2 linked regions of the Homo sapiens genome follow. The protein of the gene in region 1 interacts with the protein of each later gene in a pairwise test. Each region holds a gene or a part of one and is shown on either strand. Other genes may lie near its edges.

The links.
Region 2: the proteins of L1CAM (region 1) and PLXNB1 interact in a two-hybrid assay, tested with the Homo sapiens proteins (one study listed by BioGRID).

The regions. Positions count from the first base shown.
Region 1 is NC_000023.11:153,876,025-153,879,831, reverse strand, and holds part of L1CAM (neural cell adhesion molecule L1 isoform 1 precursor), read left to right. Parts: intron 1-3,807. UniProt on the Homo sapiens protein: Neural cell adhesion molecule involved in the dynamics of cell adhesion and in the generation of transmembrane signals at tyrosine kinase receptors.
Region 2 is NC_000003.12:48,409,297-48,413,103, reverse strand, and holds part of PLXNB1 (plexin-B1 precursor), read left to right. Parts: coding exon 1-35; intron 36-144; coding exon 145-362; intron 363-483; coding exon 484-662; intron 663-799; coding exon 800-866; intron 867-1,094; coding exon 1,095-1,241; intron 1,242-2,067; coding exon 2,068-2,236; intron 2,237-2,545; coding exon 2,546-2,649; intron 2,650-2,720; coding exon of another isoform or gene 2,721-2,723; coding exon 2,724-2,808; intron 2,809-3,026; coding exon 3,027-3,199; intron 3,200-3,372; coding exon 3,373-3,533; intron 3,534-3,627; coding exon 3,628-3,775; intron 3,776-3,807. UniProt on the Homo sapiens protein: Receptor for SEMA4D. Plays a role in GABAergic synapse development. Mediates SEMA4A- and SEMA4D-dependent inhibitory synapse development. Plays a role in RHOA activation and subsequent changes of the actin cytoskeleton.

The sequences.
Region 1 (3,807 bases):
TATTGGAAGGCTTCCCTGGGATTTTCTGGGTGCTTCCCCCTCCCCCCGTTCCTACCCGCAGCAGGAATCCCCCGACCCCCACCTGTTCCCTGGCATGGCATGGGTCAGCCAGCAGTGTGCCATTCATCCTGTCTCACGGCCGTCCCTTGCCCAGTGCCACAAGTGGGCAGGGCCTTGATGCTCTGTTGCGTGGGGCTTTGTAGGCCCCTCCGGCCCCAGCTCACAGCTGCTCCACCCTCTGTCTGTCTCTCTACCCTGCTCCCAGGCCAGCGTGACGTCCACGCCGGGAAGCCCCTCCACTGACCCAGGCCCATCTTCCCTCCTCCCCGCCCCTTGCCTGGCACAGCCCCCAGGGACAAGGACGCTGTGCAGGCGGCCTGCGCGCACGCGCACGTGCACACGCCCACCCCCACCCCTCACTCTTCTCGCTCTTTCTGCCATTTCTCAGCGGCGCACTCTGCAGCTGCCTCTCACCCTTTGTGCTCCGGTTTCCTCTTCTCTCCCTTTCTCTGCTGCCTGGGTCTCCGTTTCGGAATTTCCCCACCCCCTAACCATCTCCATCGTGGTTAGCGCTGTCTTCCTACGTCTGTCTTTGTCTCCTGCTCCCCCCTGCCTCTTCTCACTCTGTCTGTCACCCTTGGCAGACCCGGCCTTGGCTCCATCTGTGGAACACTCCCCCCTCCCCGCTCCTTTGCCCTTAGTGGTGCTGGTGGGGGGTAGAGGGCCTGCTGAGCTGACAACCCTAGCTGCTTGCTCTGTAATTGCCTGAGGAATGGTGAGAGATCAGAGACCCAGCAGCAGTGGGAGGAGAGGAGGGAGCGCCCCCTCCCAGCTGTTATATCTCGCAACCTTCTGGCTGCTTCCTGCCTGTCTCCGACTGCCCAGGGCGGTGGCAAGCTAGGTGGCAAATACTGGGAGACCAAAAAAGAAGTTGGATATGAGCCTGTGGGGAGATGGGATGGGGCTGGGATGGGGCAGGGAGCGGGGACCAGGGGTTTGGGGATATTGTATTTCCCCTGAGCGTACATGCCAAACACCATTCCAGGATTCTAGATTTGGAGGACAAATAGAGGAACTTGCGTGGCAGAAATTATCGACCTCCAGAGCACCCAAAAGCCTCTGACATGCAGGAGGGTCCTTCTTTGAGCTTTTCCTTGCTCCGGTTTCCTCCCCTCCCCCTCCTAAGACCAGTGCTCAGAGCTCCCAAGGCTGCTGTTTGATCATCTGCTCTCTGATCCGAGTCTCCTACTGCTCCTACAGGCCTTGAAGTTGAGGCCAGTGCTGCCTGGGGCCTCCCCTGATCCACTGGCTTTGTAGGGAGAGGCCGGGGTGGAACAGATCCACTGTTGCTCTTCCCTTCTGGGCCCAGGTCCAGCTCTTGCAGGCTGGGAATCACTCTTCTTACCCTCCAAGTCATCTCTTGGCCTCCAGGCCATGCACGCTGACCCACCCTGCTGCTTCTCCACCACCCTCTGCAGCAAGCTCTTGCCCAGAGTCCCCACGGGATCTGCCGCATTCACAGCTCTTCTTGGGTCACTCTGTTACACAAAACTGACAAGGCCCAGAGCCTTAGCACAGCATGGCTGACTTCTCTACCATCCTTTCGGTGTTCCTGCTGAGGCTCGGTGCCCGCTTTGATAAGGTCCTGGCTGGGCAGAGGGAGGATGCACAGTATGGATTTAATGAAGGCGTCTAGTCTGGGACTTCAGCCTCCAAGCTCTGTCACCTAACAACACCCTTTCTTGCCTTGCCTGCACTTTAACCACTTCCTGTTTGGAATTGAAGTGGTCTGGCCACTTGGGAGTCTGTTTCCTCTTGTCATTGTCAGAGGAGCCCCCTCTTTCAGACCCTTAGTCTTTGGCTCCCCTTACTTGTAGGTGAATATGGACATGGCCGGTGTGGCTTGGGTTTGGGGTGGACACATGCAGCAGTTGAGCTCTGAAGACTCAGACAAAGACCTAGAAATTGGGACTTTGAGACACACAAGAAGTGTTAGAAACACTGTCACGGAAAATGTCCCAGAGCTTGTCCTGACCCCTGTCCTGACCCTAACCTGGAGCATCTGGAAGGGAGGAGGCCTCAGTGGCCTCTCTTGACCCCCAGGGGGCTGAGGAGCAGCAGGGGGTTGTTTTCCTCCTTCCTCTCTTCTCCCACACCAGTTCTCAAGGGAAGGCTTCCTTCCCCATTCTTTCTCTCTTTTTTTTGAGATGGAGTTTCGCTCTTGTTGCCCAGGCTGGAGTGCAATGGTGCGATCTTGGCTCACTGCAACTTCCGCCTCCTGGGTTCAAGAGATTCTCCTGCCTCAGCCTCCCAAGTAGCTGGGATTACAGGAATGCACCACCACGCCAGGCTAACTTTTTTTTTTTTTTTGAGACAGAGTCTTGCTCTGTCACCCAGGCTGGAGTACAATGGCGCAATCTCCGCTCACCGCAACCTCTGCCTCCTGGGTTCAAGTGATTCTCCTGCCTCAGCCTCCTGAGTAGCTGGGATTACAGGCATGAGCCACCACGCCTGGCTTTTTTTTTTTTTTTTTTTTTTTTTTTTGTATTTTTAGTAGAGACAGGATTTCACCATGTTGGCCAGGCTGGTCTCAAACTGCTGACCTCATGATCCGCCTGCCTCAGCCTCCCAAAGTGCTGGGATTACAGGCGTGAGCCACCACGCCCAGCCCTAATTTTGTATTTTTACTAGAGACAGGGTTTCACCATGTTGGCCTGGCTGGTTTTGAACTCCTGACTTCAGGTGATCCACCCACCTCGGCCTCCCAAAGTGCTGGGATTACAGGCATGAGCCACTGTGCCTGGCCTTTTATTTTTATTTTTATTTATTTTTTTAGACAGAGTCTCACTCCATCACCCAGGCTGGGGGGCAGTGGCACGATCTTGGCTCACTGCAACCTCCGCCTCTCAGGCTCAAGTGATTCTCATGCCTCAGCCTCCCAAGTAGCTGGCATTACAGGCGCCCACCACCAAGGCTAATTTTTTTTCTTTTTGTATTTTTAGTAGAGACGGGGTTCCGCCATGTTGGCCAGGCTGGTCTCAAACTCCCAACCTCAAGAGATCCACCCACCTCAGCCTCCCAAACTACTGGGATTACAGGCGTGAGCCACCACGCCTGGCCCTTTCCCCATTCTTTCTTCATTTTCCTGAAACTATTTTGTGAAATGCTGCCATCTTGGGCCCCTTTCCTCCCTTCTCTATCCCACTTCCCAATCCCCCCATTAGCTTTTTAGGTCTGTACAGCACCCAGGCATCAGTTGGCTCTGAAAGCTATAGCAATGTGACTGCAAGAAGAATTCTTCTCTACATGTGTGTGCACACAGAGATAATAGATACAGGGATTCATCCCCACAGATACATAAAGACATACAAGAAGACACACGTAGCTAGCAGACTTGTGTGTTGATTCCCTCAGGCACACACACTAACACACCCACTCATGAGTGCAACCCCTCCCAGAGAAGACACACCACAGAAATACCAGCTCACATACAGCTCACTCCCTGCTTGCAGATCCACAACCACACACATGCCCACGGACACCTGCACATGCAGACACATACGGGGATGTGCATGCCATGCACAGGGGAGCTGATGGGGCAACAAGTTGGTGCTGGGAAGGCAGCTGGCAGGAAAGGTGCAGACAGAGAGTAGAGAGGGAATAAAAGGCAACCTAGAGGCCCAGCCAGGGCTATCTCTTCCAGATTTCTCCCTCCAAGGTGGGGAGGGGTGCGGATGGGGAGGGGAGGGCTGGAGAAGCCGGCCAGCTGGGGGCGGGGCTGAGGGCGGGGCCAAGAGCCCGGGCTTA
Region 2 (3,807 bases), on another chromosome or scaffold:
CAGTGTGCGGGACCGCTGCAAGAAGGAATTCACAGGTGTGGCTGAGAGAATGGGCCCCGCCCTCCAGAACTCTGCCCAAACCCACTCCCATCACACGGGATTGGTGCTTAACAGGTGCTTAACCTGGCCTCTTCTGCTTAACAGACCTCATGACTGAGATGACCGATCTCACCAGTGACCTCCTGGGCAGCGGCATCCCCTTCCTCGACTACAAGGTGTATGCGGAGAGGATCTTCTTCCCTGGGCACCGCGAGTCGCCCTTGCACCGGGACCTGGGTGTGCCTGAGAGCAGACGGCCCACTGTGGAGCAAGGGCTGGGGCAGCTCTCTAACCTGCTCAACAGCAAGCTCTTCCTCACCAAGGTACCCCCAGCTGCATCTTCCTGGCCTGCCCCTGGCCCTGCCCCTTCTCCAGGGCATGGTTTCTGAGCCCGCCCCTCTGTCCCCCTAAACCCCTTTTCCCATCCCTTCTCTTTGGCTGCAGTTCATCCACACGCTGGAGAGCCAGCGCACCTTTTCAGCTCGGGACCGTGCCTACGTGGCATCTCTGCTCACCGTGGCACTGCATGGGAAGCTTGAGTATTTCACTGACATCCTCCGCACTCTGCTCAGTGACCTGGTTGCCCAGTATGTGGCCAAGAACCCCAAGCTGATGCTGCGCAGGTCTGTGTGGCTGTTGGGGCTGGGTGGGCCCTGGACAGCTGGAGCTGGGGTGGGGCCTCGGGCTGGGGGGTCTGCAGGATAGAGAGGCCCGCAGCCCCACCTGCTGACCCTGGCACTCCCCTTTCCCATCATCTCAGGACAGAGACTGTGGTGGAGAAGCTGCTCACCAACTGGATGTCCATCTGTCTGTATACCTTCGTGAGGGTGAGGGGGCAGAGGTGGACAGGGCTCCTGTCCAGGGAGGGTCAGGCCCTCCAAACTTCTAAGCCCTCAGCCACCATGCAGCTCGGACACTTGTGCCAGAGCAGAGACTCCTGCTCAGCCTGTCCTCAGTCCCCTTAAGCCCATGTCCTGTCCCCTTCCCCAGTGTGCGTCATGTCCCATACACCTCTGCCACCTGCTGGGGGGCCCTAACTGCCTGTGCTCTCCTAGGACTCCGTAGGGGAGCCTCTGTACATGCTCTTTCGAGGGATTAAGCACCAAGTGGATAAGGGGCCAGTGGACAGTGTGACAGGCAAGGCCAAATACACCTTGAACGACAACCGCCTGCTCAGAGAGGATGTGGAGTACCGTCCCCTGGTGAGGGTGTGCAAGTGTGTGGCCTGCAGTCTGAGTGCGGTGAGGGCGAGGGTGGAGAGTGTGTGGGTGTGTGGGGTCTGGACACCAGCTTCTGATGTGGTACCTGGATGTAGAGCTGGGTTGACCTCTGGCTGGCTCCTGGAGAGAGCCCATCAGACTAGCTTAGCAGGATAGCAGTTTAGGGCAGACTTTGATGATAAGGCCTCTATGTGCCCCAGGCTAGGGATGGAACTAGGGTAGCCACAACCAGGGTTTGGGAGAAGCCAGCCCTACCTTAGACCATGGGCTTGAGCTGTGTCAGGGCCTGACCCTGTCTGCCTGGCCCTCCTACCAGGAATGCGGCCTTGCCCACCAAGCCAGCCTCACTCTGGCAGGCACTTCTCTCTGGGTTTGCTTTCCCCTTAGTTACGCACAAGGGTTCCTGTGGGAAACCCCCATTCAGGCCTGCTGAACCCCTCCCCTGTCGGATAGGTGGGAATATTTGCTCCCGATGGTGGGAATGCAGGCTTCCCGAAACTCCGTCAGCCTGACCCATTCAGCCAGGAACCTGGGGATCTGAGTGATGAGGGACTTGTGCTCACTCATTTTTTTCTGCCATTTACCCCATAGTGGTTTACAAGTGCACTGCGCTAGGTGCTGGGGTCACAATGGGGAGGAAGCTGCTGTCCCTGGGGAAGGCAGGCAGGTGAAGAGACGAGAATTAGGGATTGTGTGGTGCGTGGGGATTGGAGGCAGCAGTTTCTCATGAGTTGTCTCTGCCCTTGGCCTGTGTCTTGGTCATCCTGAGTGCACATGAACCCTGATGGCTCCTGTGTGTCCTGCACAGACCTTGAATGCACTATTGGCTGTGGGGCCTGGGGCAGGAGAGGCCCAGGGCGTGCCCGTGAAGGTCCTAGACTGTGACACCATCTCCCAGGCAAAGGAGAAGATGCTGGACCAGCTTTATAAAGGAGTGCCTCTCACCCAGCGGCCAGACCCTCGCACCCTTGATGTTGGTGAGGGCGTGGAGAGCCCCTGGGGACCTGAGCCACTGTTGGGCCTGGGCTGGCCCCGGACCAACTCTGCAGGGACAACTCATCACTCAGGGTGGGGAGGATGCTGGGAGGCAGGCAGAAGCTGGCTTTGGAACATCTTTCTTGGACAGCCTCTCATCTGGGGAGGGGGTCCCTGCTCTTGGTCTTTGGAGAGGTTGAGTAAGGCTGCCCCATGATGGAGGGGCTGGTGTCCCTGTGGAGGAGGAGATGGGCTCCACTATGGGAAGGGTATCTTCCAGCCCTGCACCCAGTTCTGCCTTGCCCTTGCAGAGTGGCGGTCTGGGGTGGCCGGGCACCTCATTCTTTCTGACGAGGATGTCACTTCTGAGGTCCAGGGTCTGTGGAGGCGCCTGAACACACTGCAGCATTACAAGGTAGGAGGAGTGGGAGCTGGAGGAGGGCATGGTGGGGTGGGACTGGTGGAGGGATCACCAGCTGTGCTCAGCAGGTCCCAGATGGAGCAACTGTGGCCCTCGTCCCCTGCCTCACCAAGCATGTGCTCCGGGAAAACCAGGATTATGTCCCTGGAGAGCGTGAGTACCGCTCCCATCACGGTCCTCTGCCCCTGCTGTGCCCAGCCCGGAGTCATGGGGAAGGTCCTCTGGGCCTCAGGGCAGGCTTGTGCCTATTTCCATTCGGCCCAGGAAATCCCTCAACCAGGTGCCCCCACCCCTGGGAGAGCTGGCAAGAAACAGGGGGCCTGGGGAGGTGGCACCTGGGGAGGGGTGACAGCTGTGGGCTCTTGGCACAGGGACCCCAATGCTGGAGGATGTAGATGAGGGGGGCATCCGGCCCTGGCACCTGGTGAAGCCAAGTGATGAGCCGGAGCCGCCCAGGCCTCGGAGGGGCAGCCTTCGGGGCGGGGAGCGTGAGCGCGCCAAGGCCATCCCTGAGATCTACCTGACCCGCCTGCTGTCCATGAAGGTGGGGTGGGGCTGCCAAGGTAGTGGGGCCTGGGCTGAGAGGGAGCATGGCCACTCGTGGGATTTGGGGGTGGTGTGGGGCTCGTGCAGGCACAGTGCCGGGGGGTGTCTGAGGCTGGGCTGCTGCTGAGGGCCCTTTGCTGACCACACCTCTCTGCTTCTTCCTTCCCACAGGGCACCCTGCAGAAGTTCGTGGATGACCTGTTCCAGGTGATTCTCAGCACCAGCCGCCCCGTGCCGCTCGCTGTGAAGTACTTCTTTGACCTGCTGGATGAGCAGGCCCAGCAGCATGGCATCTCCGACCAGGACACCATCCACATCTGGAAGACCAACAGGTGGGGTGGAGCTGGGTGGGCTCTAGGTGTGTGTGGGGGGTCTTCTCTTCTGCCTCCCCAGCACATTCATCGGCCATGCCTGCCCCACCCGCAGCTTGCCTCTGAGGTTCTGGATCAATATAATAAAAAACCCGCAGTTTGTGTTCGACGTGCAAACATCTGATAACATGGATGCGGTGCTCCTTGTCATTGCACAGACCTTCATGGACGCCTGCACCCTGGCCGACCACAAGCTGGGCCGGGTGAGCGAGTCTGGGATGGACACGGGGGGATG